Linked DNA regions of Homo sapiens: region 2 is linked to region 1. Evidence: fine-mapped expression QTL. Tissue or cell type: breast. Region 1 holds a variant in brackets; the other region holds the start of a gene. All regions are shown on one strand. Distances are from middle to middle.

The links.
Region 2: it holds the start of LINC02893, and the variant in region 1 is fine-mapped to the expression of LINC02893 in breast (GTEx, PIP 0.95).

Annotation. Positions count from the first base shown.
Region 1 is chr9:86,110,171-86,121,968 of GRCh38, reverse strand. No RefSeq gene overlaps it. Among named protein-coding and RNA genes, the nearest start is that of GOLM1, 17 kb to the right of the region's middle. The variant A/C (reference allele first, on the strand shown) is at 6,800.
Region 2 is chr9:87,037,061-87,048,858 of GRCh38, reverse strand. It overlaps LINC02893 (long intergenic non-protein coding RNA 2893), which reads left to right and starts at 6,733. Exons shown (of 2, transcript NR_027471.1): 1 at 6,733-6,988.

The DNA of each region.
Region 1 (11,798 bases):
ATTATTATTATTATTATTATTATTATTATTATTTTTGAGACAGAGTTTCACTCTTGTTGCCCAGGTTGGAGTGGCTCCTGAGTAGCTAGGATTACAGGTGTCCTCTACCACGCCTGGCTAATTTTTTGTATTTTTGGTAGAGATGGGGTTTCACCATGTTGACCAGGCTGGTCTCAAACTCCAGACCTCAGGTGATCCACCTGCCTTGGCCTCCAAAAGTGTTAGATTACAGGCGTGAGCCACCGCACCCAACCCAACATCCTATATTTTATGTAAATATTATACTATGGACCGACTTGTGTCTCTTCAAAATTTATATGTTGAAGTCCTTACCCCCTGTACCTCAGAATGTGACTGTATTTGGAGGTGGGGATTTTAAAGAGGTGGTTATGGTAAAATGAGGTCATATGAGCGGGTGCTTATCAAATATGATATAAGCCGGGGAAATCTGGACACAGACATGCACAGAGGGAAAGCATGTGGACACACAGGGAGAAGACAGCCATCTCCAAGCCAAGGAGAGGCCTCAGGATAAACCAACCCTGCTTACACCTTGATCGTAGACTTCCAGCTTCCAGAACTCTGGGAAAATAAATTTCTGTTGTTTAAGTCACCCAGTCTGTAGTACTTTGTTATGGCAGCTCTAGTAAACTAATGGAAGTACATATTAATAAACAATTTATTAAAAGATAAAGCATGGGCTGGGCACGGTGGTCACGCCTGTAATCCCAGCACTTTGGGAGGACGAGGTCAGCAGATCACTTGAGGTCAGGAGTTTGAGACCAGCCTGGTCAACATGGCGAAATGCCGTCTCTACTAAAAATACAAAAAATTAGCCAGGCATGGTGGTGTGCACCTATAATCCCAGCTACTCAGGAGGCTGAGGTAGGAGAATCGCTTGAACCCGGGAGGCAGGGGTTACAGTGAACCGAGATCGCACCACTGCACTCCAGCCTGGGCGACACAGTGACTCTGTCTCAAAGAAAAAAAAAAGATGAAGCATGATTAAGTGACCTTTTAATTCTAAGAACATGATCTGTCATTTTTAAAAATGCAACATTGCATTGAAAATGAAAACTGTTCTTGGTTGTGTTTTATAAACAAAAAGAGTAAGTCACAAAGCAAGCTTTAGTTCCCAGGCTAGGCTTCACATTATATGACTTAAATTTCGATAAGTAGAATTTTTTGGTTTCCAGAGCATTGTTTCAAATTTCCCACTGAAGACATGTTATTCTCAAATTGGATGACTACAAACCTAATTTTAGCTCAAAATCTACAACAGGTACAGGCACTATTGAAATTGTCGAAGGAAATGAGCTGGGAGATTTCAACAGCATGTGCTTAGGAGGCACACAGGACAACACAGAGCACACAGTGACTGCTGGTGTGTTTATTAACCATTTCTTCTCATTCTCTGTATTCTTTTTTTTTTCCTTGTTTTTTGTTTTTGAGACAAGGTCTCACTCTGTCGCCCAGGCTGGAGTACAATGACATGGTTCACTGCAGCCTCAACTTCCCTGGGCTCAAGCGACCCTCCCACCTCAGCCTCCTGAGTAGCTGGCCTACAGGCACATTTTTGTATTTTTTGTAGAGATGAGGTTTTGCCATGTTGCCCAGGCTGGTCTCCAACTCCTGGGTTCAAGCATTCCTCCTGCCTTGGCCTCCCAAAATGCTGGGATTACAGGCATGAGCCACTGCGTCCAGCCTTATTTTCTGTACTTGTGATGCTCTGGCATTTGGGGGCCAGACTACTGACTAGGTAGAGTCCAACCCTCTCAGGATTGGATTGCTAGAGATAGCACATGACTCCCTTTTGATCTGAGTGTGCCTTTCTTCGTCTTTTTTTTTTTTTTTTTTTTTGAGACAGAGTCTTGCTCTGTCACCCAGGCTGGAGTGCAATGGCGCGGTCTCGGCTCACTGCAACCTCAGCCTTCTGGATTCAAGCGATTCTCCTGCCTCAGCCTCCCGAGTAGCTGGGACTACAGGTGCATGCCACCACACCCAGCTAATCTTTTGTATTTTTAGTACAGACAGGGTTTCATCGTGTTAGCCAGGATGGTCTCGATCTCCTGACCTCGTGATCCGCCCGCCTTGGCCTCCCAAAGTGCTGGAAATACAGGCATGAGCCACTGCGTACAAAAGTGTGTACTGCATATTGAAAGTGTGTATTGCATATGAAAGTGTGTATTGCATATGAAATTGTGTATTGCATATGAAAGTGTGCCTTTCGTATGCAAACCAACCAATCCAAAGCCAGTTACCCACCGACACCCCCACAACCTTCTCTATCTGGCTCTCACACTCTAGGTCACTATCCACCTACCCTAATCACCCCAGAGCCAGGTGCCAGGCAACCAGGGACAACCCCTGGGACCCAGAGCTCACTGTACTCAAACTAGACAATCCTAAATGTGCTTACCGTGCCTTGCATTGACTTTTCTGTGGAAACCACGCTAAAGACTATTGCCCAGGTTTTCCCCTTGCTCCCTCTGTCTCCTGACCAATCCTGTTGTTTCCCATGAGGCCCTGCAGTGCCTGGCCTGCCGCCTTCTGCGAGAACCAAGAGTCACAAACTGTCTTTCAATAGCAGTCATCCCCTGAACTGTTGGTCTCACTATACCTGAATATAAAGAAAATCTTGGGTACATTGTAAAACAGGAAGCCCACTCAGAGGGGTCTACGCAGGAGGCCTGTGGTCTCCTCTTAATCTGGATGGAACCACCTAGTCTGTAGGTTTCTACTCATCACGAGGCTCTTACCTCCACACTTCTTCCCCCAGGATGCCCCCCAAATTCCAAGTTAGATCTTCATTCCTTCAGTTTGAGCCTTTAGTTTCTTATTACGTGCAGTGCCCCTGGATGTAGACATGGCTATGCTTTCATCATTTATCCAACCCTTCCAGGATGTGACAGCAAACTACACAGGCACTGGGCTGAGAACTAGAGAGGGATGGAAGAGACGCCGCTGCTGCCATTGATAGACTTCCTTGTCTAATTTTTTAACTTATTTTGTCATTGATGATTAAGAAAGGGATTATGGGGATATGAACCTTGATTTTGACCTCATTTTTCCTTTCTTCCTTGTCTGTTTCTTTCTTACCTTTTAGTTTTTGGCTTCGTTGGTTATCACTATAGCTAATCCAGATAAAGAATTACAAGATTTCCTTAACTAGTTGGAAAACAACATTTCAATGATTACTTATCTCTAAATGATAATAATGCAAATTGTAAAAATGGTAAGGCTGGTTAAAACCAAACTCTTGGGATAAACAAGGAACCTGTGGAATAGGCTTCAAACTCCCATTTTTCTAAATGATTTCTACAAATACATTTATCTATTTTCCTTCCCTCCGCCCCTCCCTCCCTCTCTCCCTCCCTCCCTCTCTGTCTCTCTCTTTCTCTCTTTCTCTCTTTTTTTTCTGACATGGAGTGTTGCTCTGTTGCCCAGGCTGGAGTGCAGTGGTACTATCTCATCTCACTGTAACCTCTGCCTCCTGGGGGTTCAAGCAATTCTCCTGCCTCAGCCTCTCGAGTAGCTGTGATTACAGGTGCACGCTGCCATGTCCAGCTAATTCTTTTTTTTTTTTTTTGAGACGGAGTCTTGCTCTGTCGCCCAGGCTGGAGTGCAGTGGAGCGGTCTTGGCTCACTGCAAGCTCCGCCTCCAGGGCTCACACCATTCTCCTGCCTCAGCCTGCCGAGTAGCTGGGACTACAGGCACGTGCCACCACGCCCGGCTAATTTTTTGTATTTTCAGTAGAGACGTGGTTTCACCGTGTAAGCCAGGATGGTCTCAATCTCCTGACCTAGTGATCCACCCGCCTCGGCCTCCTGAAGTGCTGGGATTACAGGTGTGAGCCACCGCGCCTGGCCTAATTTTTTGTATTTTAGTAGAGACGGGGTTTTACTGTGTTGCCCAGGCTGGTCTTGAACTCCTGAGCTCAGGTAATCCACCTGCCTCAGCTTCCCAAATTGCTAGGATTGCAGGCGTGAGCCACCGCACCCACCCTGCAATTGCTATTTTTACATATTATCTCAGTGCTCTAAAATTATCCTAGCCTACATGCAAGAATGGGTAAAGGCCCCATAAACAAAAATGGAGTGAGTTCTGTTAGTTCTTTTGCTGTTTCGCTGCTACAATGGCCTCTTAGAATTACAGTCGCCTCATTTAACTAGGGCCCGATTTCATAATTTGAGGTCTTGGTGGATAAGAATCTTCAGGAGAAATACCTAATTTGAGCTGTGTTGATGTCTTCAAGCATGAGGACAGGCTTGAAAGAAAACAGGCTGTTCCTAACCTGCAGGAGAAGTGAATCATGTTAACCTGGGGCCTTGGAAATGCTCATTTTGGGAGCTGTCCTTCAGGAGGTCTCAATCACTGAAGGTCTTGCCTTTTGAGTTTTCTCATCTGAGAACGGCCTCAAAGGGACAGAGACGGTCTTGGGACTCTGCCTGGCAGCAGTCCATCTTCATCAGCCCCTTCCTACCTCCCCTCATCCCTCCCTCCTCTTCCTTCTTTACCCCACATAATTCCCTTGGCCCCTTGCCAGCCGTGCTGTCCATATGTGAACAATGCTCTACTTTGATGGAGGAAAAAAAGGGTCTTTAATTTTTTTTTTAATTATCATAAGTATTGGTACCTTGTGGCTCACGCCTGTAATCCCAGCACTTTGGGAGGCCGAGGCAGGTGGATCAGTTGAGGCCAGCAGTTTAAGACCAGCCTGGCCAACATGGTGAACCCCGTCTCTACTAAAATCACAAAAATCAGCCGGGCTTGGTGGCGTGCACCTGTGATCCTAGCTACTCGGGAGGCTGAGGCAGGAGAATCACTCGAACCCAGGAGGCGGAGGTTGCAGTAAGCTGAGATCGCACCACTGCACTTCACCCTAGGTGACAGAGCAAGACTCCATCTCCAAAAAGAAAGTATTAGTACCTTGATATTTTTTCTATCTCTAGAGGTTTGCTTACAAATACACATATCTATATTAGGGAGAGGACTACATAAACACTCAAAGAGATAAAACATTAATGATGCAACATCAGACATTCTTCAGGAAGGCAGTGAGGGTAGGATCCACCAGGCCCAGCCTCCCAAAACTGTCCCCTCTGCTCCCCCCAGCTCCTCCACGGGTTAGGCTGGCTCCACTCTTGTGTTCTTTCCATCCTTAATTCAAACTCCATGTCCCTCTTCTCTGACTGTTCCCAAATTTCAAACTGCATCCCTGATGGATCCTTTCTTGTAAGAAGGCTGCTCTTCCTGGGTAGCCTGAAAATCTTCCCCGGCTCATTACCATAGCAACGAGAGCACGCCGCTGAAATCTGCAGCACGGAGGGGCTGGCAGCGCAGCTCCCACACACTACGACTCAGATGGCAGCTTCCTCAGGCCACTAAAGGAGCAACCCTTTCTGAGCTCATAGATATTAAAAATAGAGAATGGTATCCCTTGATCAAATTACTGCGTGCCTCCAGATCACTTTCCTCTCCTATGTGTGACAGAAGTGAGTTTTTCTTTCATTGCGGAGGAAAATCTAGAGATGGTTCTGTCTAATCCCACCCAAAATGGCAGTGACTCAGTATACAGGTCGGGAGGACCCTCTATTCGGCAATCATCACCCCTCTAAGGGCTTAGAGCACCCTGCACCCGGGGTTGTGGAAAGCGGGGAGAAGTGAGCTGTTTGAGACCAAACACAATTTGGTGGCTGATACTGGCATGATCCTCCTTCGCAGTGCATGGGGCCTTTTGGCTGCAGAGGGAAGTAACCCATACTGAGAGGGAAAACAGAGGTTCTGTGGTTTTGGCGAGCACAGGGGCCACTCAGATGGTGACAAGGTGGGCCGCAGGCCCTGAGGAGGCCTTGACAAGACCTGTGTCCAGTCCTCTCCCTAACCCAGGGAATCCTTTCTAGAGTCACTGCAGCCTCCAACGCCGGGCTCGAGGGATCCTCCCACCCCAGTCTCCGGAGCAGCTGAGACTACAGGTGTGTGCCACCAAGCCCAGCTAATGTTTTGTAGGGGGGTGGGAGTGGTCTCGATTTTCCCGCTGGCTGGTCTTGATTAGAATTCTTTCAAGGCATTTCTTCCAAATCTTTTTTTTTTATACTTTAAGTTTTAGGGTACATGTGCACAAGGTGCAGGTTTGTTACATATGTATATATGTGCCATGTTGGTGTGCTGCACCCGTTAACTCGTCATTTACATTAGGTATATCTCCTAATGCTATCCCTCCCCGCTCCCCCCACCCCACAACAGGCCCTGGTGTGTTCCCCTTCCTGTGTCCAGGTGTTCTCATTGTTCAATTCCCACCTATGAGTGAGAACCTGCGGTGTTTGGTTTTGTGTCCTTGCAATAGTTTGCTGAGAATGATGATTTCCAGCTTCATTCATATCCCTACAAAGGACACGAACTCATCCTTTTTTATGGCTGCATAGTATTCCATGGTGTATATGTGCCACATTTTCTTAATCCAGTCTATCATTGAGGGACATTTAGGTTGGTTCCAAGTCTTTGCTATTGTGAATAGTGCCGCAATAAACATACATGTGCATTTGTCTTTATAGCAGCATGATTTATAATCCTTTGGGTATATACCCAGTAATGGGATGGCTGGTTCAAATGGTATTTCTAGTTCCAGATCCTTGAGGAATCGCCACACTGACTTCCACAATGGTTGAACTAGTTTACAGTCCCACCAACAGTGTAAAAGTGTTCCTATTTCTTCCAAATCTTTTTCTAACTGTATGCATCCCTCCATTTCCCCCTCACGCCTCTGGCACTGCGGCTTTTAAAATTCAAAGACCAATA[A/C]ATGAACCTGTTTTTCTTTCTGTTTTTCCCCTGTGCTATCCATGCCCTTATGCAATGCACACAGACTGCCTAGATCAGGGGCTTATTTGAAGCTACTTTTTGCAGGCTGGTGGAGTCTATAGGCCCCTTCATTTTAAATGCATAAAAATAAAAAGGAAACCAGTCATATTAAAAGACAAATTGCCAATATATTAAAAAAAAATGTGTGATATCGTAATATATGTGCTTCTTTATTAACACATTATTAATAAGGTTAAGTTTTTTATTTCAAATTGTTGACATGCATAAGTGTTATTTTGAAACATGTGCCACAAATCTAAAGTGCTATGAAAATACCTGTGTTTTCTATTGGTTGCAAAGTTATGAGTACTGTGAAAAAGGTCAGCTGCCTACGTTAAAATGGAAGGAAATGCTAAATTTCAGTTAGGTGTTATATCAAGAACTGTGAAGCGTCTGAGATTTTACCCTACCAGGAAGGGTAACAAATTAGCATGAGACAGTTTCAGGGATGCTGATAGAAGACATGAGACTCCTGGGTCAGACGTAAAAGACTGTTTGCTACAGCAACAGCAGTATCCAGAATATCAGCATTTGTGCTCGTTCTCTGAGCCCCATTTCTGGCAGGGTAATGCAAAGAGGGCTAGATGATCCCTGCACACATTGTGGGTTGCATTACATTATTTATGTTAACATGTAATGGATGTATCTCTTTTAAATAAATTAATATTTTAAATTTTTCTCAGTTTTTTTGTTTTTGTTTTTGTTTTTGTTTTTGTTTTGTTTTGTTTTGTTTTTGAGATGGTGTCTCTCTCTGTTGCTCAGGCTGGAGTGCAGTGGTGCAATCTTGGCTCACTGCAATCTCTTCCTCCTAGGTTCAAGCGATTCTCCTGCCCCAGCCTCCTGAGCAGCTGGGATTACAGGTGTGCGCCACCATGCCCAGTTAATTTTTGTATTTTTAGTAGAGATGGGGTTTCAACATGTTGGCCAGGCTGGTCTCGAACTCTTAACTTCAGGTGATCCGCCCACCTCAGCCTCCCAAAGTGCTAGGACTACAGGCATGAGCCACCGCACCCGGCCTCAGTTTTAATTCCTAAAATATTGATAGATTCACATGATCAAAAACTCTTTGGGCTCATCAATAATTTTTAAGTGTGTTCATTTTAAAATGTTGGTCCTGAGACTAAAAGCTTGAGATCATCTGGTTTAGATTGTTACATTGCATGGTTGGGAAGGTAGGCCAGGGGCAAAAAAATAAATAAAAAAATAAAAATAAATATGCTGGCTGGCAATGAAAAAGCATATTAGATAATAATAAAAAAATTTTTAAAGAAAGTGTTGGGTGAGGTGATACCTAGGGTGGCAACATTAGGATTCTGTGACATGGGAGGGTAAAACTCTTTTCAAGACTGAAGTCGAAGACACTTTAGTGGAAGGAAGCAACATGTTAGGAAGGAATGAATCCTTCCGGCAGCCTGGTGAATCCAAGGTTAAATTCTTCCCTATAATACGGTATCACTTTAGTCTCCACTAGACTCTCCTAGAAAGAGCAGAGGATCAAGGAAGAAATCAGAAAAACTGAGCATTTGTCCAAAAGAGACTGAAGTCAGCATTAACTGGCTACTTTATGGTTCTCTTCCCAACTCCACACCATTTCTCCATGGAAACTCAAGAGGAAGATGGGCTCTATTCCATAAAAGAAAGCAGCAGCATTCTCTGTACACATGCAAGTCACTGTCTCTCATCCTACACCACTGTAAACACCCAGGGTCTGGGTGTCTAAATAACTGAAGTCAGGGGTTTGCATCTTCAGGCTTACAGATCAATGCTGCATAATCATTAGCTAACAAACCCGTGGTGGTGGTGGCGGTGGTGGTTGGTGATGGTGGTGTCTATGCCTCCAAAGGCAGAAACTGAGTCTCCAGAAGGCTGAGGTGGTAGACAGGGGCAAAACCAGAAGTAGAGGCGCCCTAATGTAAAGACCAGAGTTTCCTCCTTTATGATTTTGCCTAGAATGAAAATGCAAGACGGGAGTGCATATAATTTAGACTTTTGGATGCTTGCCTTTCTCTATTTCCAGTCATAAACCCTTGACACATCGAACACAACTTTTTTTTTTTGACATGAAGTTTCACTCTTGTAGCCCAGGCTGGAGTGCAATGGCACGGTCTCGGCTCACTGCAACCTCTGCCTCCTGGGTTCAAGCGATTCTGTCTCAGCCTCCCAACTAGCTGAGATTACAGGCATGCACCACCATATGCTTGGTGCGTATTTTTAGTAGAGACAGGGTTTCTCCATGTTGGTCAGGCTGGTCTCGAACTCCTGACCTCAGGTGATCTGCCTGCCTCAGCCTCCCAAAATGCTGGGATTACAGGCGTGAGCCACTGCGCCTGGCCTAACACAACTTTTTTTTCCCCGCTTTGCTTTGGCTCCCTGATTCCCCCCATTTTTTTTGTTCTCATAGTGTGGTTTCTTTTAGAAATTCGATGTGAAAAACAAGGTGGGTGGTGGAAGATGCCCTTGGCAAAGAAAATAGCTACATCTCTTTCCATGCAACCTCCTCCTGCCCCCCACAATCTCCATCCTCCCCCTTGGCCCCTGATTCACTGTGTCCCTGACGTCTCTCCTTCTGACTGATTTCCACTCACTGCCCTCAGGAATGTGCTCGAAAACTAATTACCAAAGTATCAATGCCCTGCTGGCTGCTCTGGTTATCCATTGCTGCATAACAAACCATCACAATATCCAGTGGCTTCAAACAACAGTCATTTTCTTATCCTCCCTCTGGTTCTGAGTGCTGACTAGTGCAGCAGGCCCTTCTGGCTCAGGGTATCTGCTGCAGTTGCAGTCAGATGGAAAACTCAGTGGCAGGGGGTGGTGACTCCAGAGCTGACAGGTCTCCGTGTCTGGCAGGTGATGCTAGCTGTTGGCTGAGACCACAGTTGTGGTTCGTGGACAGACGACTACACGTGGCCTCTGCATGTGGCCTGGGCTCCCTTACAGCATGGTGTCTCCTCACAGCAACAGGAACCTCCCAAGAGATAGCCAGGAGGAGGCTGTGCTACCTTTTATGACCCAGCCTCGGCCTCAGATCTGTTGTAGTTCATCTGTTGGAGTAGTCATAAGCCCTCACCCAGATTCGTGACCCAGCCTCGGCCTCAGATCTGCCGTAGTCCATCTATTGGAGTAGTCATAAGCTCCCACCCAGATTCATGGGGAAGAGACACAGACTCCAGTCTCAATGGAAGGAGTGTCCAAGAGTTTTGGGGCCAAAGCAAGTCACAACTTTCCCCTTGCCCTCCTTAGTGAAGTCTGGACCATTGAAACTCCAGCTTTACTAAGATACTAGGGGCCAGGTGTGGTGGCTCACGCCTGTAATTCCAGCACCTTGGGAGGCTGGGGTGGGTGGATCACCTGAGGTCAGGAGTTCGAGACCAGCCTGGCCAACATGGTAAAACCCCATCTCTACTAAAAATACAAAAAAAAAATTAACCGGGCATGGTGGTGGGCACCTGTAATCCCAGCTACTTGCGAGGCTGAGGCAGGAGAATCACTTGAACCTGGGAGGCAAAGGTTGCACTGAGCCGAGATTGCACCATTGCACACCAGCCTGGGCAACAAGAGCTGAACTCCATCTCAAAAAAAAAAAAAAAGATACTAGGGCTTCACTTGCCATTAACCTGCCTCACTAAGAATGGCAGAGAATGGTAGCTGTCACAAAACATCTCTTCTTCCTTTCTTACTTAGGAAGTTTTTATCTGGGCACATTGCTTCCCACAATATGAGACTCTATTTCCCAGATGCCTTGCAGCTAAATGTGGACATGTGACTAAGTTCTGGAGAAGGAAAGTAATCAGAAATGTCATATGCAACTTCTGAGAGGTGGCCTTAAAGGAAGGGAAGAAGCTCTTTTTCCTTTCTGCTGAATGGAATATAGAAGTGACAGCTTCGGCCTCACCAGCCGTCTTGGATTACAAGGATGAGGGCCGTATCTGGAGCCATGGAGCAGTGGAACCTGAGTCCCTGTGGACTTTCAGACCTGCCCTTTCATCCCAAGACTGCCCACTAAAGACTTACTCTGTGAGAAGATAAAACTTTGCGGGCTTAAGTCACTATCATTTTTGGCTTCTTGTGGTGATGAGACAGCTGAGCTTAATCCTAAAATGGTATACAAACCAAAGCTCTTTGTCTTGGCTTTATGTCCTAAAGAGCAGAACCCTAAAAAGAAAAGAGATCTTCCCCAGATCCAGTTGAATATCCTTTTACTACTCACTAAAACATTAGATTCTCTCTTGTATCTGGTGTTTCTCAGTAAGTGTGCTACTCATATGAAGAGACAGAAGCATTTTTGTTGTTGTTGTTGTGCAGGACACTGAACTAAATCAATGGCAGGCTGGGCGTGGTGGCTCATGCCTGTAATCCCAGCACTTTGGGAGGCCAAGGTGGGTGGATCACCTGAGGTCAGGAGTTCAAGACCAGCCTGGCCAACACTGTGAAACCAACCCGTCTCTCCTAAAAATACAAAAATTAGCCAGGTGTGGTGGCACAGGCGTGTAATCCCAGCTACTAGGGAGGCTGAGGCAGGAGAATCACTTGAACCTGGGAGGTGGAGGTTGCACTGAGCCGAGATCGCACCATTGCACCATTGCACTCCAGCCTGGGTGACAGAGTCTCAAAAAAAAAAACTATAATAAATAAAAATAAATATGAAAATACTTTTTAAAAAATTAGCCAGGCATGTTGGTGTGCGCCCGTAGTCCCAGCTACTTGGGAGGCTGAAGCAGGAGAATTGCTTGAACCTGGGAGGTGGAGGTTGTAGTGAGCTGAGATCACACCACTGCACTCCAGCCTGGGCGATGGAGCAAGACTCTGTCTCATAAAAGGAAAAAAGAAAAGAAAAAAGGTCAATAGCACACATTCCCTCACCCTCATGCCCACAAATCACTGTTAAAACACAAAAGTCTGCACGGCGCAGTGGCCCACACCTGTAATCCCAGCACCT
Region 2 (11,798 bases), 930 kb before region 1:
TTTAAAAATTGAGTCATCTGTCTTTTTAAATTGTTAAGTTCTAAAAGCTCTTTATATATTCTAGATACAGGATCTTTATCAAAAATATAATTTGCAAATATTTTCTCCCATTCTGTATGTTGTTTTTTCACATTCTTGATGGTGTTAGTTGAAGCATAGGAGTTTTTGATTTTGATAAATTCCAATTCAGCTATTTTTCTTTTGTCACCTCTGCTATTTCCTGCCTTTTAAATGGTTTTAGATCATTTTCATTTAGTGTCATCATTGATAGGATTAGATTTAGATCTATCATTATATTTGTTTTTATGTCCTATATATTCTTTTTTTCCTCTCAAAGTCTTTTTTGCCTTCTTTTGGATTAATGGAATATTTATCTTTTTAGTGGTTGCTCTAAGTTTTACAATTTATATCTTTAATATATTACTTCTTACCTTCAAAAGTATTATAGAATCTCAAGTATAGTCTGAGAGTCTCCTAATTGAGTACTTCCAGGTTTAACCTCCTAGCATCTGTTCAATTTTTTACTACACATTTTATTCTTAATGCCTATGTATGTTCTAAATACCATAATACATGGTTATTATTTTTGCCTTAGATAATAAATTATTGTATAAAGGGATTAAAAGTAAGAAAATATTTCTTTATTATTTGCCCTCATTTTCAATCATTTTCAGCACTCTTCCTTTCTTTGTTTAGATTCATATTTGTATGAGGTATCATATTCCTTCTGTCTGAAAAACATTGCTTAACATTTCTTATAATTCAGGTTGCCAGAACTGATTTATCTTAGCTTTTGTTTGCTGAAAAAGTCTTTATTTCACCTTCATAGTCGAAAGATGTTATTGCTGGGTATAACATTCTGGGTTGAAAGTTTTTGTTTATTTTAGACATCTACGCATTGTCTTTCAGCTTGCATAATTTACAATATGAAGTCTATGGTGATTCTTTTTTTAATTTTTTTTTCTTTTATTATTATACTTTAAGTTTTAGGGTACATGTGCACATTGTGCGGGTTAGTTACATATGTATACATGTGCAATGCTGGTGCACTGCACCCATTAACTTGTCATCTAGCATTAGGTATATCTCCCAATGCTATCCTTCCCCCCTCCCCCACAACAGTCCCCAGAGTGTGATGTTCCCCTTCCTGTGTCCATGTGATCTCATTGTTCAATTCTCACCTATGAGTGAGAACATGCGGTGTTTGGTTTTTTGTTCTTGCGATAGTTTACTGAGAATGATGATTTCCAATTTCATCCATGTCCCTACAAAGGACATGAACTCATCATTTTTTATGGCTGCATAGTATTCCATGGTGTATATGTGCCACATTTTCTTAATCCAGTCTATCATTGTTGGACATTTGGGTTGGTTCCAAGTCTTTGCTATTGTGAATAATGCCGCAATAAACATACATGTGCATGTGTCTTTACAGCAGCATGATTTATAGTCCTTTGGGTATATACCCAGTAATGGGATGGCTGGGTCAAATGGTATTTCTAGTTCTAGATCCCTGAGGAATCACCACACTGACTTCCACAATGGTTGAACTAGTTTACAGTCCCACCAACAGTGTAAAAGTGTTCCTATTTCTCCACCTCCTCTCCAGCACCTGTTGTTTCCTGACTTTTTAATGATTGCCATTCTAACTGGTGTGAGATGGTATCTCATTGTGGTTTTGATTTGCATTTCTCTGATGGCCAGTGATGATGAGCATTTTTTCATGTGTTTTTTGGCTGCATAAATGTCTTCTTTTGAGAAGTGTCTGTTCATGTCCTTCGCCCACTCTTTGATGGGGTTGTTTGTTTTTTTCTTGTAAATTTGTTTGAGTTCATTGTAGTTTCTGGATATTAGCCCTTTGTCAGATGAGTAGGTTGTGAAAGTTTTCTCCCATTTTGTAGGTTGCCTGTTCACTCTGATGGTAGTTTCTTTTGCTGTGCAGAAGCTCTTTAGTTTAATTAGATCCCATTTGTCAATTTTGTCTTCTGTTGCCATTGCTTTTGGTGTTTTAGACACGAAGTCCTTGCCCATGCCTATGTCCTGAATGGTAATGCCTAGGTTTTCTTCTAGGGTTTTTATGGTTTTAGGTCTAACATTTAAGTCTTTAATCCATCTTGAATTGATTTTTATATAAGGTGTAAGGAAGGGATCCAGTTTCAGCTTTCTACATATGGGTAGCCAATTTTCCCAGCACCATTTATTAAATAGGGCATCCTTTCCCTATTGCTTGTTTTTGTCAGGTTTGTGAAAGATCAGATAGTTGTAGATATGCGGCGTTATTTCTGAGGGCTCTGTTCTGTTCCATTGATCTATATCTCTGTTTTGGTACCAGTACCATGCTGTTTTGGTTACTGTAGCCTTGTAGTATAGTTTGAAGTCAGGTAGTGTGATGCCTCCAGCTTTGTTCTTTTGGCTTAGGATTGACTTGGCGATGCGGGCTCTTTTTTGGTTCCATATGAACTTTAAAGTAGTTTTTTCCAATTGTGTGAAGAAAGTCATTGGTAGCTTGATGGGGATGGCATTGAATATGTAAATTACCTTGGGCAGTATGGCCATTTTCACGATATTGATTCTTCCTACCCATGAGCATGGAATGTTCTTCCATTTGTTTGTATCCTCTTTTATTTTGTTGAGCAGTGGTTTGTAGTTCTCCTTGAAGAGGTCCTTTACATCCCTTGTAAGTTGGATTCCTAGGTATTTTATTCTCTTTGAAGCAATTGTGAATGGGAGTTCACTCATGATTTGGCTCTCTGTTTGTCTGTTATTGGTGTATAAGAATACTTGTGATTTTTGTACATTGATTTTGTATCCTGAGACTTTGCTGAAGTTGCTTATCAGCTTAAGGAGATTTTGGGCTGAGACAATGGGGTTTTCTAGATATACAATCATGTCGCCTGCAAACAGGGACAATTTGACTTCCTCTTTTCCTAATTGAATACCCTTTATTTCCTTCTCCTGCCTAATTGCCCGGCCAGAACTTCCAACACTATGTTGAATAGGAGTGGTGAGAGAGGGCATCCCTGTCTTGTGCCAGTTTTCAAAGGGAATGCTTCCAGTTTTTGCCCATTCAGTATGATATTGGCTGTGGGTTTGTCACAGATAGCTCTTATTATTTTGAAATATGTCCCATCAATACCTAATTTATTGAGAGTTTTTAGCATGAAGGGTTGTTGAATTTTGTCAAAGGCCTTTTCTGCATCTATTGAGATAATCATGTGATTTTTGTCTTTGGCTCTGTTTATATGCTGGATTACATTTATTGATTTGTGTATATTGAACCAGCCTTGAATCCCAGGGATGAAGCCCACTTGATCATGGTGGATAAGCTTTTTGATGTGCTGCTGGATTCGGTTTGCCAGTATTTTACTGAGGATTTTTGCATCAATGTTCATCAAGGATATTGGTCTAAAATTCTCTTTTTTGGTTGTGTGTCTGCCTGGCTTTGGTATCAGAATGATGCTGGCCTCATAAAATGAGTTAGGGAGTATTCCCTCTTTTTCTATTGATTGGAATAGTTTCAGAAGGAATGGTACCAGTTCCTCCTTGTACTTCTGGTAGAATTCAGCTGTGAATCCATCTGGTCCTGGACTCTTTTTGGTTGGTAAGCTATTGATTATTGCCACAATTTCAGATCCTGTTATTGGTCTATTCAGAGATTCAACTTCTTTCTGGTTTAGTCTTGGGAGAGTGTATGTGTCGAGGAATTTATCCATTTCTTCTAGATTTTCTAGTTTATTTGCGTAGAGGTGCTTGTAGTATTCTCTGATGGTAGTTTGTATTTCTGTGGGATCGGTGGTGATATCCCCTTTATCATTTTTTATTGCGTCTATTTGATTCTTCTCTCTTTTTTTCTTTATTAGTCTTGCTAGCGGTGTATCTATTTTGTTGATCCTTTCAAAAAACCAGCTCCTGGATTCATTAATTTTTTGAAGGGTTTTTTGTATCTCTATTTCCTTCAGTTCTGCTCTGATTTTAGTTATTTCTTGCCTTCTGCTAGCTTTTGAATGTGTTTGCTCTTGCTTTTCTAGTTCTTTTAATTGTGACGTTAGGGTGTCAATTTTGGATCTTTCCTGCTTTCTCTTGTGGGCATTTAGTGCTATAAATTTCCCTCTACACACTGCTTTGAATGTGTCCCAGAGATTCTGGTATGTTGTGTCTTTGTTCTCATTGGTTTCAAAGAACATATTTATTTCTGCCTTCATTTCGTTATGTACCCAGTAGTCATTCAGGAGCAGGTTGTTCAGTTTCCATGTAGTTGAGCAGTTTTGAGTGAGATTCTTAATCCTGAGTTCTAGTTTGATTGCACTGTGGTCTGAGAGATAGTTTGTTATAATTTCTGTTCTTTTACATTTGCTGAGGAGAGCTTTACTTCCAAGTATGTGGTCAATTTTGGAATAGGTGCGGTGTGGTGCTGAAAAAAATGTATATTCTGTTGATTTGGGGTGGAGAGTTCTGTAGATGTCTATTAGGACAGCTTGGTGCAGGGCTGAGTGCAATTCCTGGGTATCCTTGTTGACTTTCTGTCTCGTTGATCTGTCTAATGTTGACAGTGGGGTGTTAAAGTCTCCCATTATTAATGTGTGGGAGTCTAAGTCTCTTTGTAGGTCACTCAGGACTTGCTTTATGAATCTGGGTGCTCCTGTGTTGGGTGCATATATATTTAGTATAGTTAGCTCTTCTTGTTGAATTGATCCCTTTACCATTATGTAATGGCCTTCTTTGTCTCTTTTGATCTTTGTTGGTTTAAAGTCTGTTTTATCAGAGACTAGGATTGCAACCCCTGCCTTTTTTTGTTTTCCATTTGCTTGGTAGATTTTCCTCCACCCTTTTATTTTGAGCCTATGTGTGTCTCTGCACGTGAGATGGGTTTCCTGAATACAGCACACTGATGGGTTTTGACTCTTTATCCAATTTGCCAGTCTGTGTCTTTTAATTGGAGCATTTAGTCCATTTACATTTAAAGTTAATATTGTTATGTGTGAATTTGATTCTGTCATTATGATGTTAGCTGGTTATTTTGCTCGTTAGTTGATGCAGTTTCTTCCTAGTCTCGATGGTCTTTACATTTTGGCATGATTTTGCAGCAGCTGGTACCGGTTGTTCCTTTCCATGTTTAGCGCTTCCTTCAGGAGCTCTTTTAGGGCAGGCCTGGTGGTGACAAAATCTCTCAGCATTTGCTTGTCTGTAAAGTATTTTATTTCTCCTTCTCTTATGAAGCTTAGTTTGGCTGGATATGAAATTCTGGGTTGAAAATTGTTTTCTTTAAGAATGTTGAATATCGGCCCCCACTCTCTTCTGGCTTGTAGGGTTTCTGGCGAAAGATCCGCTGTTAGTCTGATGGGCTTCCCTTTGAGGGTAACCCGACCTTTCTCTCTGGCTGCCCTTAACATTTTTTCCTTCATTTCAACTTTGGTGAATCTGACAATTATGTGTCTTGGAGTTGCTCTTCTAGAGGAGTATCTTTGTGGCGTTCTCTGTATTTCCTGAATCTGAACGTTGGCCTGCCTTGCTAGATTGGGGAAGTTCTCCTGGATAATATCCTGCAGAGTGTTTTCCAACTTGGTTCCATTCTCCCCATCACTTTCAGGTACACCAATCAGACGTAGATTTGGTCTTTTCACATAGTCCCATATTTCTTGGAGGCTTTGCTCATTTCTTTTCATTCTTTTTTCTCTAAACTTCCCTTCTTGCTTCATTTCATTCATTTCATCTCCCATCGCTGATACCCTTTCTTCCAGTTGATCGTATCGGCTCCTGAGGCTTCTGCATTCTTCACGTAGTTCTCGAGCCTTGGTTTTCAGCTCCATCAGCTCCTTTAAGCACTTCTCTGTATTGGTTATTCTAGTTATACATTCTTCTAAATTTTTTTCAAAGTTTTCAACTTCTTTGCCTTTGGTTTGAATGTCCTCCCGTAGCTCAGAGTAATTTGATCGTCTGAAGCCTTCTTCTCTCAGCTCGTCAAAGTCATTCTCCGTCCAGCTTTGTTCCATTGCTGGTGAGGAACTGCGTTCCTTTGGAGGAGGAGAGGTGCTCTGCTTTTTAGAGTTTCCAGTTTTTCTGTTCTGTTTTTTCCCCATCTTTGTGGTTTTATCTACTTTTGGTCTTTGATGATGGTGATGTACAGATGGGTTTTTGGTGTGGATGTCTTTTCTGTTTGTTAGTTTTCCTTCTAACAGACAGTACCCTCAGCTGCGGGTCTGTGGGAGTACCCTGCCATGTGAGGTGTCAGTGTGCCCCTGTTGGGGGGTGCCTCCCAGTTAGGCTGCTCGGGGGTCAGGGGTCAGGCACCCACTTGAGGAGGCAGTCTGCCCCTTCTCAGATCTCCAGCTGCGTGCTGGGAGGACCACTGCTCTCTTCAAAGCTGTCAGACAGGGACATTTAAGTCTGCAGAGGTTACTGCTGTCTTTTTGTTTGTCTGTGCCCTGCCCCCAGAGGTGGAGCCTACAGAGGCAGGCAGGCCTCCTTGAGCTGTGGTGGGCTCCACCCAGTTCGAGCTTCCCGGCTGCTTTGTTTACCTAAGCAAGCCTGGGCAATGGCGGGCGCCCCTCCCCCAGCCTCGCTGCTGTCTTGCAGTTTGATCTCAGACTGCTGTGCTAGCAATCAGCGAGACTCCGTGGTTGTAGGACCCTCCGAGCCAGGTGCCGGATATAATCTCGTGGTGCGCCGTTTTTTAAGCCAGTCGGAAAAGCGCAGTATTCGGGTGGGAGTGGCCTGATTTTCCAGGTGTTGTCTGTCACCCCTTTCTCTGACTAGGAAAGGGAACTCCCTGACCCCTTGCTCTTCCCGAGTGAGGCAATGCCTCGCCCTGCTTCAGCTCGCGCACGGTGCGCGCACCCACTGACCTGCGCCCACTGTCTGGCACTCCCTAGTGAGATGAACCCGGTACCTCAGATGGAAATGCAGAAATCACCCGTCTTCTGCGTCGCTCACGCTGGGAGCTGTAGACCGGAGCTTATTCGGCCATCTTGGCTCCTCCGTTCCCTCTATGGTAATTCTTTTCTTTCTTCCTGTTGCGTTTCTCTGGCTACCTTTAATATTTCCTTTTTATCTTTGATTTTCAGCAGTTTGATCCTGAAGTATACTTGCACTTCGTATCCTTTTTCTTTTTCCTCTTCCTTTCCTCTTCGTTTCTTCGTCTTTCATGTTTATAAAGTTCTTTTTTCCTGGGTTTGTTTCAGTTTGAATAATTTCTCTCAAACTATTTTCAAATTTACTGATGTTTGCCCTCTTGGCAACGTACAGTCTGTGCATGGGCCCTAGAAAAAAACTTTTTTTACAAAAAACTCTGATTTGTTTTTTAATTTCTAGTGTCTCAATTGAGACTGTAAAAAATGCTATTCATCTCTGCTGAAATACCTCATTTGTTTAATTAATGTTTCATTCAACCCTTTAAAATTATGCTCTCTTCCCTGATGGTAGAATGCTGTGGTTTTTGTTGTTGTTATTGTTTTCATCATTTTTTAAATCTTTTTCCACTCTAAACTAAACTTTGTAAGGACAAGGACTTGGTGTAATTCGCTGTCATATTCCAAATACTCATTACTGTAGTAATGCTTTAACAAATTGTAATTGAGTGAACAAACGAACACACTGCCATGTTTACTGCCATGGTTTAAAGTGTTGCCACTTCCTGATAAAATGTACATTAGTATCTGTTTCTGTCCTATATCTCAAAAAAATTACTAAACATAACGATTTATGCCTAAATAAGATAATCTAGGCTAAAACATTCAGACTCTAAAAATCGAAAGTGAATGCGTTAAATATGAGCTAGGAGCAGTAATGAATGATCAAAATGTTTTAGAAAAGCATAAATACCAAAGTTCCCTACTGCAATGAACAACCATAGTTTCTGGTCATTAGTTTTAAAGACTGGAATTCATTGGAAGGCAACTGATAGCTCATAGAACTGATAGGAAACTAGCAAATAGAAATTAAGGAATAGGTGAGAATGAGGCTGCTCTGGGAGTCCAAGGACCCAATCACTTTGTAAGAGGCCTGGTCAGACCAAGACACTGCTATTGACATAAGACTCCTGCATAAATAGACTCCACCACTGACTCCCTGGAAGCCACTGTCCCTAGCCGCTGATTGTTTTGGCTCATCCCTTTTGGTCTTCAGCAGTGGTAGGCAAAGTATAACAGCCACTATTGGTGGCCTGCCACTATTCCCTCCTCTCATTTCACTGCAAGCCTCCACACTTTCTATTGTCAGCACCTGCACCCCTTAGCCTGAGGGAGCCCTCAACCAAGGGTATTTGTATTAGTCAGGGCTATCCAGAGAAGCCAAACCAAAAGGCTGTGTGTGTGTGTGTGTGTGTGTGTATGTGAAGACAGAGACAGACAGAGAGAAGAGATATTTTAGTAAGTTGGTTCACAGGATTTCACAAATCCGAAATCTGTGGGGCAGGCTGGAGATCCAGGATAGAGCTGACATTTCAGCTTGAGCCTGGAAGCAGTCTGCAGGCAGTCAATTTCTCTTAAGTCCTTAGCAACTCACTGGGTAAAGCCCAGTGACATTATGGAGGGTAATCTGCTGTATTCAAAATCTAGTGATTTAAACATTAGTCATATCTAAAAATATACCTGCACAGCAATATCTAGACTGGTGTTTAACCAAACATGTGGGCACCATAGTCTAGTCAAGTTGACATGTAACATTAACCATCACAGTGTTAATGTTTAAGTTCCCCAGCTTCCTCATCCTTCTGGTGTGGAAACCCTGAGAGTTGTGTTATAGGCTGTTTCCCAGAGTTTCTCATAAGGATTAAGCTCCTGTTGCCTACAGTGATGACTCGCTTGATAATGCAGCATTTGTTGTTTTTTTCTCCTTTGCTGTTTTACTTTCCTGCCATTTTACCAGTGTCTTTTGGAGTCATTTTCAAAGTAAACTCCTTGCAAGTAACTTATTGTCTCTCAGTTTGCTTCTGAGATAATTCAAACAGAGATACAGAGCATAGAATTACCACAGCAGCACATACAATAAGGGATTTCTCCTAAAAAGAAAAAGGACATTTGGGATGCTGGACAATCAAAAAGTATTTTTCTACTTATAGCACAGGTGACATTTAGACATTGATCTCTACTGAAGTTTTCTTTCTGAATCCATCTTTTTTTGTTAGATCATTAATAAAAAAAATTTTTAAAGTTAGAGAAGTAATTGTCTTCTTAATCATAATAATAAACATTAGAGACACTCACTTATTAAAAGAATTTATAAGTGGCCAAAAGAATACTGACAATTTCATTGAAAACAAAAGTATAAAACAAAAAAAAGCCTGAATTTTGTACCAAAATTGTCATGTAGTATAATGATCTTAAGGGTAGAAGTTTTGTCTCTATGTATGTACTTATGTTTTCATTTATTAAGCAAGGCATAGCATTTAATCGTGGCTGGTGACTGTTTCTGTATTGCTGTTAAGTAATTACTTTCATGCAACTTATCAGAAAATTGGCTACTTTTTGACTCTCAAATATTTTATGAAGGTAGTGTAGTTAAATGTTTGATTTATGCAAAAAATGCAAAAACATCTACTATTATGTGTTTACTAATTAAGAGCATCTTGTTCTTAATATAACAGTTTTCTATAAGAATATTTCCTGCTCTTATAACCTGCTTTTATATCTTTGACAGCATTTTTGAGGTCATAAACTCTACTAAAATATTTTGAAAAAGAAATCCTATCTCAATATAATTGAGGTAGGATAATTATATAAATGAGGAGGCCATATACAGTATGAATTTTGTATTTAAAAGGCATATTAAATAAAATGAAGGGTGGCAGGTTGGTTATTTACTTTGAAAATGACTCCAAAAGACACTGGTAAAATATTGGGAAAGTAAAACAGCACAGGAGAAAAAAAAACAATAATGGTGAAATGTACCACAGTTTAAGTAGGAGTAATGTCTGAAGTGACAGAAATCATTGCCCTAAGTTTTCCAGGACAACCTGACAAAAAGAATGTTTGAAAGCAGAAATATCTGTCACAATATGTCTTATTTTTTATTCAAAATATGGATCTCATCACCCTATTTTCTGGTCTCATTGTTTTTAGATTTATCTGCACTCCTATTCCCAATATTCTTCATTGAACATATTCTCTTACTCTTGATTTATAGTTCATGATTAACTGGCCAAGTTTTATTGAGAGAATCCTCAGTCTGAATATCAATGCACTGGTTATAATTGCCACGCACTTACATTGATGCATCATTTATTTTGAAATAAAAGTTTTTAAAATGTGCTAATAGTCTTCTCTCCTAAACTGTGGAACCATGGTTTATAACTCTAAGGCCTTCCTTGTCACATAAATGTCAGTGTTTGTATTTGAACCTTTCACTTCTGAATGAGGTATATGGATAGGCTCTCTATGGCTGATTTGGATCTGTAGAAAACCTTGCAAAGCAAGTAAAGCTATTTGCCTTACAAATCAGGTCCTTCTTACATAGAAATAGTCTTAGGCAGTTGGCTCACCTTGTCATCTCTGACTGAGTTTTAGTAATAAGAAGGTTTTGAGCACATAACTATTCAGATGAATGAGAATTCTTAGTACATTATGGCTAGTAAGCAATCTCTTAGAAACCAACAATATTGTTGAAATTAGATGACAGTCTCTCTCAGCACAGAGGCCTAGTTACCTTCATTGGCAACTTCTTGGTAGGATGAAGCAGTTTGGGTGAAGTATGTCAAACCCATTCACTATAACCAGAGGGATTTTTCCATCAGTGTGATGTCATTACAGAATAAATAAATAGTAAAATTTTGAAAATGATTATTATTTGATGAGGCAATAAATAGCAGTCATTAAGGACAAAGGCTTTTTAAATAGGCCGATATGACGTTTACACCCCATCTAACCAACTAACTAAATAAGAAACGTACTGAGTCTCCATTCTCTCTGCTATAAAACAGCAACAATAATCACTTACCTCAGAGGGCTGTGTGAGTATTAAATAAGATAAAACATTGTGAGTGCTAGCTTAGCACCTGGCACATAGGACTGCTCAAATAAGCCCCAAAGGGTGCAGAGTGACTGTGTCACCGTATTGATTGCATAAAACAATTATATTCAAGGCTTGTTTTTCTTGTCTTTGCTATCAGCTCTTAACATATTATAGCTGTTCTATGTCTTGGAACGCAAAAAAATCATCAAAACACCAAGGTCTACTCTTAGAAATGTGATCACTTTTGTCAAGAAAAATGTATTTCAAAATTCTCTCCATCACTAGTTTCTAATTCTATCACTAAGGTGAGTGTGCGTACCCAGGGGATAGCAAGATGCTCCAACTGAATGAACAAAGAAATATGATTTTCTATGTCAATTTTCCCTCTTTTGTGTTTCACTTTTGTGTTAGTGCAGTAGGATGTATACAGAATTTATAAATAAATATGCACGTATGGGAGGGTACTGCTCTGAGTACACAACCTTTTGGAAACCATTGTTCTAGAACAGGAGCTGGCAAACTAAGGCCCATGGGTCAAATCTGGTCCGTTGCTTACTTTCAGAAATAAATAAAGTTTTATTGGAACCACAGCCATACCCATTTATTTACATATTTTCAAAGGTCACTTTTGCACTACAATGGCAGAGTTGAATAGTTGCAACAGTGACTGAATGGCCTGCACAGCCTAAAATAATTACTAACTGACACTTTAGAGAAAATGTTTGCCAAACCCTGTTCTAGAAAATGATTTGTATAGGAGGAGAATCATAATGCATACTGAGACCTGGTTTTTATACCTGTTCACACGAGTACTCAGACCCACCAGCCAACTTGGGAAGGTGGATGATGTTTCC